Homo sapiens: one gene and its partner. The protein of the gene in region 1 purifies or fractionates together with the protein of each later gene. This does not show direct contact. Each region holds a gene or a part of one and is shown on either strand. Other genes may lie near its edges.

Region 1 (4,391 bases):
GGGGAAGGATCTGAGCGGGGAAGGCTCTGAGGGGGGAAGGCTCTGAGGGGGGAAGGACATGAGGGGGAAGGATCTGAGGGGCGAAGGATCTGAGGGGGGAAGGCTCTGAGGGGGGAAGGCTCTGAAGGGGAAGCTCTGAGGGGGGAAGGACATGAGGGGGAAGGATCTGAAAGGCGAAGGATCTGAGGGGGGAAGGATCTGAGCGGGGAAGGCTCTGAGGGGGGAAGGCTCTGAGGGGGGAAGGACATGAGGGGGAAGGATCTGAAAGGCGAAGGATCTGAGGGGGGAAGGATCTGAGCGGGGAAGGCTCTGAGGGGGGAAGGCTCTGAGGGGGGAAGGCTCTGAGGGGGGAAGGACATGAGGGGGAAGGATCTGAAAGGCGAAGGATCTGAGGGGGGAAGGATCTGAGCGGGGAAGGCTCTGAGGGGGGAAGACTCTGAAGGGGAGGCTCTGAAGGGGAAGGACATGAGGGGAAGGATCTGAGGGGCGAAGGATCTGAGCGGGGAAGGCTCTGAGGGGGGAAGGCTCTGAGGGGGAGGCTCTGAGGGGGAAGGACATGAGGGAGAAGGATCTGAGGGGCGAAGGATCTGAAGGGGGAAGGATCAGGGGAGGAAGGATTTGGAGGTGGCAGCTTCTGCGTGGGGAAAGAACTGAGGGGGAAGGATCTGCGTGGGCGAGAGTGCGGCCGGTGAACGAGGGCTGGGTAGGGGATGGGGGAGGCCACTCTGAGCCGGAAGGAGCTAGGCGAGGGGAGACAGGGCCCCCAGTCCTGGACCTGGCCACGCGCTTTGGGGCCCTAACCCGTGCCCCTCGTTGTTGTGTGTTCATCGCAGGCGACCCTGTGCCTGCCGGGCCTTTCTGGAAGAGGCCGTGCGGTGTCCCCCAGACCACCCACCCCGGGCTGAAGACTCTTCCTGAGGTGGGTTCCCACGTGGCCCGGGCAGGGGCAATGGGCACTCGGCGGGCGAGGTTTCACGGTGCAGCCAGCGTCCGTGTGTGTGCAGGCGGAGACGGACGAGGCGCCACGGGGCTCAGATACAGGAGCGATCGGTGGAAGCAGAGTCGGAGCAGCGGAGGGCCGAGAGGCCGGGGAATGACGTGGTTGTGGGGCGAGGGCAGCCAGCGCCGGGGCTTGAGGTGGAGCTTGGCCCGCGGGGGTGGGGGTGCCGCTGAGGAGGAGGGGTCGGGGGTCTCCCCGGAGCGGACGCCCAGAGCAAGCCCAGCCTCTCTACAGACGGGCGAGGGGGAGGCGGAGAAGGGGGCGCAGTCCCGCACCAGGGCCCGCAGCGCCATAGGGTAGGGCCACGCCCCGGAGGGCCCGCGCCAGGAGTCTCCGCCCGAACCCCCGCTCGGGCAGGACCCCCGCCAGGAGGAGCTGCGCTTGAGGGGTCCCCTTCGAGCCAAACTTCAAATCCAACTCCTCGGACGGCCAATTTACGTCATCGCGGGTTTCCATGGCAACGCAGACAGGCCCGAGACGCGTCTTCAGGAAGAAAAAGCCATTGGGGGCCCACTGGAGCCTCGCTTCTGGTTCCGGGCCCAGCGCCCCGGGCGGAATGCGGGGTTGGAAAGGGGGGACTAGCCTGTGTGTGGGGTCCAACCCCCCCACCCCACACACCAGACCTTCCCTTTGCATTGCTGCGTCATGGGGGCCTCCTCCCACGGATGACACGCGGCTCGTGGAACTGGGGGGCCGCCTCTGCTTCTCCTCCCGGCCCCTCCCTGCACCTGCGCTGTCGCGGCATCTTCTGCGGGTCCCCTGCGCCCCACCCGCCGCGCTCTGGCAGGGAGGCAGTGCCCGGCTCCTGTCTCTGGGGCGGGGAAGGCGTGGGATGCTGATGGCAGATGGGTGGGGGCGCGGGTGAGTGAGGCCGTGCAGATGGACAGATGGATGGCGGGGGCGGGGGTGCAGGCTCTCAGTCGAAAGTCCACGGAAGCTCGGCTGGAGGTCACGTCACAGACTCGCTTCCGCATGCGCCCCCCCCAACCATGGAATGCTGCGTCACGCTGGGGGGTGCGCGCAGGTGGGCTTGTGCGGGCCGGGCACCAGCGCGTGTGACTGCGGATCTGAGGGTCCCGCCCAGCCCCCGCGGGCGCCACCGCAGCCTCCCGCCCCTGGCGCTGCAGGGGGCTGTGGCTGCCCCGCTTATTAAAAGGCAGCTGCACTGCGGGGTCGGCGCAGCCCCTCGGAGGGGAGTGGGCGCGCAGCTGCTCCCGCTTCCAGCCCAGCCACCTGTGGCCCCGCACCCGAGCCTGCTGCAGGTGGTTCCGGAGCCGCGCCCCTCCCGGCCTCCTGGCCACCTCTTGCCTGTCACGCAGACGCCCCCATCAAGCCCACCGCCCACCCCCAACCCCCGTGCGGGCAGCGGCTCCTCGGTGCTCTGGTCCGACGCCCCTTCTGTCGCCCTCCCCACCCCGCCTCCGGCGGACAGAGCTGGGCGGGAGCTGGGACTGGTACCCCCTCCCCACCTCGGAGACACCCTTAACTCCAGGCTGCGATCCTCGTGCCGGGGCCCCGCCGTCACGGGAAGCCTGGAGACCACCGCCCTCGGGTCCGCGGGGTCGGACTGGCCTGGGGCAGCCAGAGGAGGCCCGAGGGAGGAGGGCGGCCGTGCAGCGCGCCCTGCACACTCGCACCCGCACACGCGCCTCGCACACACGCACTCACACCCTCATCCGCACGCGCGCCACGCACAAGCGCACTCGCGAGCACACGCACCTCGCACACACACCCGCACACGCGCCTCGCACCCCCGCACCCCTTCGGGCCCCCCGCCCACATTCTGCAAGAAATGTGGAAATAGCTCACAGGCGGCTCCACTGGCAGCTGCTGCAGGACGCGGTCGGGGAGGACGACGATGCGGATGTGGATGCGGAGGATGCGGTTCCAGACGCTTCGCGGCCGGGCGGGGCGGGGGCTGCAGCTGCGAGACCGAGGCTGTGGTCGCCATGGAAACGCGGCTAGAGGCGGGGCCTCGACTCTGGTCCCGCACCCTCTACCCCCACCCACCGCCCCGGCTAGGGAGCCGCGCATGCGCCCCTCAGACCCTGCTCGGGCCTCACCACACACCTCATACACACACCTGATGCACACACACCTGACACATCCCCAGAAACCACACCTCGAACACCAGACACATCCAAACACACACCTCACACACATCCCAGACACACACCTCACACAAACACCCCCCACACACACACCTCACAAACACCCCAAACACCTGACACACACACACCCCAGAATCACACATCTCGAACACCAGACACATCCAAACACACCCCAGACACACACACCCCAGACACACACCCAACACACACCCGACACACACACCACACACACCTCACACACACCCCAGACACACACACACCTGACACACCCGACACACCCCCAGAATCACACACCTCAAACACCACATTCAAACACACACCTCACACACACCCGACACACACCTGACACACACGTGACACACACACCTGACACACCCCCAGAAACATACACCTGACACACACCTCACACACACCCAACAACACATATACCTGATACACACCCCAGGCACACATTTGACACACACACCCCACACACCTGACACACATACCCCAGAAACACCTCAAACAACAGATACATCCAAACACACACCTCACACACACCTGACACACACACCCTAGTAATACACACATCAAATACCAGACATCCAAACACACATCTCACACACACCTCAGACACACACACAGCTGACACACACCTGACAGCCCCCAGAAACACACATTTCAAACACCAGACACATCCAGACACACACCTCACACACACCCCAGACACACACACACCTGAGACACACCCCACACACCTAACCCGCACCCCACACACCTGACCCACACCCCAGAAACACACATCTGACACACACCCCAGACACACACACCTGACACTCTCCCCAGAAACACCTCAAACACCAAATACATCTAAACACACAATTCACACACACCCCAGATATACCTCACACACACACCCCAGACATACCTCACACACACACACCTGACACCCCAGAAACACACCTCACACACCAGACACACCCACACATCTCACATACACGACACGCACCTGACACCCACCCCAGAAACACACATCTCACACACCAGACACCCAAACACACCTCACACACACCCCTGACACACACCCCACACCTGACACACACACCTGACCCACACCCCAGAAACACACACCTTAAACAGCAGAAACACCCAAACACACCCCCCCACACACCTGACACACCTGATGCCCATCTGACACATACCCCAGAAACACACCAGACACACCCAAACACACTCACCTCAAACACATCCCTGACACACACACACCACACACCTGACATACACACACCTGACCCACACCC
Region 2 (3,228 bases), on another chromosome or scaffold:
TCTCGCTATGTTGCCCAGGCTGGTCTTCAATTCCTGGCCTTAAGTGATCCTCCTGCCTCGGCCTCCCAAAGTGCTGGAATTACAGGCATGAGCCACCACCCATAACTTTATGTTTGTTTTTTTGATGCAGTATAAGTTCAGCTTGCTTCTTATGCAGCCATACCATTTCATGTTAACTCTGATTTTTAGCAGCTTATTACATTAGTGTTTTATTATTAATATAATTTTACAGAAATTTACTAAACCATGACTCTGTAGAGTTTTAATAATACTACCTCCAAACATCATTGCAAACATCTAGAAGAATGAACAAAAATGATCTTAGATCGACAGTATATCTGTTTGTCTTAGTTTCTACACAGGATGTTCAGACATATTCCATTTCTTTAAAAAAAAAATATATATATATATATATATATATAGGCCTGGCACGGTGGCTCATGACTGTAATCCCAGCACTTTGGGAGGCTTAGGCAGGCAAATCACCTGAGGTCAGGAGTTTGAGACTGGCCTGACCAACATGGTGAAACCTCGTCTCTATTAAAATTACAAAAATTAGCCGGGCGTGGTGGCACATGCCTGTAATCCCAGCTACTCGGGAGGCTGAGGCAGGAGAATCACTTGAACCTGGGAGGCAGAGGTTGCAGTGAGTTGAGATCACGCCATTGCACTCCAGCCTTGGTGACAAGAGTGAAACTCCGTCTCAAAAAAAAAAAAAATATGTATATATATATATATATATATATATATATATATATATATATATATATAAAATCCCACCAAAAGTCTGCAGAGTGACCAAATTAGACGGCTCTGGTTTCAGATTAAATTCTAAATGTGAGAAACCACATAGCTCCCATGATCCATCCAATAATTCCTCACGTCCTCTTCACTCTTTACTCCATGCATAAAACAGAATTTTTTTTTCTCATCCTGGGTATGAAGCAATTAATAATTTACGGATTTAGCCTATTTGGATTCAATCCCTTCAAACTCCATACTACATCCAAGGTGGAAGTGACTTAAACTCTGATATCAATCATCAGGCTTGTAATATAGGCTTTGTTAATGGCAGGAGAGTCTAATAAAACTTTCTGTTCCTTATCCTTCATTTAAATGAAAAACTTTTTATTGAAAACAATCATAACTCTAGCTCATCATAAATATAATTCATGAGGACATTTTATTATTTTTATATTAAAGAAATAATATTATAGATGTAAACTTTGCACCTTTCTAATTATTATCATGAGTTAAGCTAATACTTGTCTTCTGGTCCCTAGATGATGATTCTTTTTTGCCTTACTGGAGGAGCCCTTGTCTTGAAGTGAGTTGCTTCAACAGCAGAGGACTTCTAGTTTCTCCCAGTTGAGCCTAAAGTGAACTTTTCATCTTCTTCAGAGGAAGGGGCTTCCTTGATTTGTACTTTTGTGGCTCCTCAGATAACACAGACAATTTTATCTTGGATCCCAGGTTCTCTTCACCATTAAGAATAAGAAAGAGAGAAAATGCTGTGCATGACAGCCACCTACTCCAAACTACCCAACCCCCTGTAACCAGGTACCTTCCAACAACGAGATGATTCTGCCCTCACTCAAGAGTCTCCCCCACAAAGATTCCATTCTCCCTTTACTTTTTATTTTTTATTTTTTTGCAAAACAAAGGCCTCCTTTAGTACCTCCTTAGTTTATAACCCTTATCTTCCCAGCTCTTCCCTTCACTGATACCTCTGATTTCAAAAGTTCTGAAGTCGGAAGACCACACAATTTCAGACTGTGAACAGAAATTCAGTCAGAAATTATTGGAGTTAGAAAGAATTTAGAGAAATTGTATTGAACTAGAAAGTCCTCTTTGATTAGTGGTGGCCCTTTAGAAAGTTCTAGGGCAGAGTCCCATGGTGTTTCATCTTTTCCATGATTTGCTTGACCAAAAACTTTTCTTTCACAACATGAAAATATGCTAATCCACCACACATTTTGGATTCTGCTCTGTTTGCCTGAGGTGTTAGATCTCTAGCCAGGACTGTGAAGGGAAGGAACTTGAATCCTTCCTATTGAGCTATTAATGCAGAGTCAGTGAGATGAAGGGTTCCACTCGGGGTCAAAATCATGTCAGTTACCAAGCAAAGGAGCAAGTAAGGGGAAACATCTCCTCATCTGGTTAGTGGAGCCACATTTCACCCACTGATCAAGCCAGACCTGAGCAATAGTCTAGATTTCTCCCTCCACATCTAATTGGTGACAATGGTGATTGTACCACTGACAGGTCACACAAGTCCACACCCTCCTTCACAGCCTCACTGCTTCGGCTCTTGTTTATGCTCTTATCAGCATCTGTCACTAGGATCCATTTGTCTCCTGACTCATCTACTTCCTTTCACTCCCCTGGGCCATCCTTCACATCATGCTAGAAGACTGTGTCTAACTTGCAGAACTTATTGTGTCAATCTCCTGGTTACGGCCCCTCCATGGCTCCCCACCTGACATAGGAGGCCCTTCACAATCTGGCTTCTGTCACTCATAACTTGTCTCCAGCCTTCATTCTTCAGTCTGATTTTATGGTTTTCTAGTTCCCCAATACACCACACCAGTGTTTATGAAACCCTAGTCATTGGCCTACGAACTTTATGATTATTGACATATTCATGTACCACCTGTATTATTTTTTGCATAGTGTTTATTTTTAATTGACTACATTTTTAACTACAATAAAGTAATTTCAACTAAAACTTGGTATCAATGCTGCGAATGGAAAACTGCTATCAGTTGCCATAATAAAAATGAAACTGTAAAAATAAATATAATAAAAATGAAACAAAGTTATTAAGTTCTAACCAGATACTGTTGCCTGCTCAAAGGTCTGAGCAATAAGCCTGTTCTCTGTTTGACACAAAGGGAGTTCAGAAAGTGTTAGAGAGATAGAAAATATTTTGGGGAAGCACAGAAAGATTTATTCCCTGAGTTAGCCAGGATTGAGAGGGAGTTGATAGAGCAGTTACTTCTATGGTTTTGTTCAATGTTATTTAATGCTTGATCCTAGAATCATCCTGCATACAACATTCAGTCATCCACATATCTCAGGAAGCACAATATTGTGCTTGCTACATATCCCTGCCCTTGTTCTGTTTTACTGGAACTCCCTTCTCCATTCGTCCTCCTGACAAACTTCTTTCGCCCTCTCTCTGGATAAAGAGAGTTTCCTTCTCTGGGATTCCTTCCATGACCTATT

What was found. The genes of interacting proteins can lie anywhere in the genome.
Region 2: the proteins of CALY (region 1) and NRG1 purify together in Homo sapiens (affinity purification with western blotting, with the first as the bait; one study listed by BioGRID). This does not show direct contact.

Annotation. Positions count from the first base shown.
Region 1 is NC_000010.11:133,334,025-133,338,415, forward strand, and holds the start of CALY (neuron-specific vesicular protein calcyon), read right to left. Parts: upstream 2,873-4,391; 5' UTR 2,810-2,872; intron 1-2,809. UniProt on the Homo sapiens protein: Interacts with clathrin light chain A and stimulates clathrin self-assembly and clathrin-mediated endocytosis.
Region 2 is NC_000008.11:32,771,319-32,774,546, forward strand, and holds the end of NRG1 (pro-neuregulin-1, membrane-bound isoform isoform HRG-alpha proprotein), read left to right. Parts: 3' UTR 1-2,728; downstream 2,729-3,228. UniProt on the Homo sapiens protein: Direct ligand for ERBB3 and ERBB4 tyrosine kinase receptors. Concomitantly recruits ERBB1 and ERBB2 coreceptors, resulting in ligand-stimulated tyrosine phosphorylation and activation of the ERBB receptors.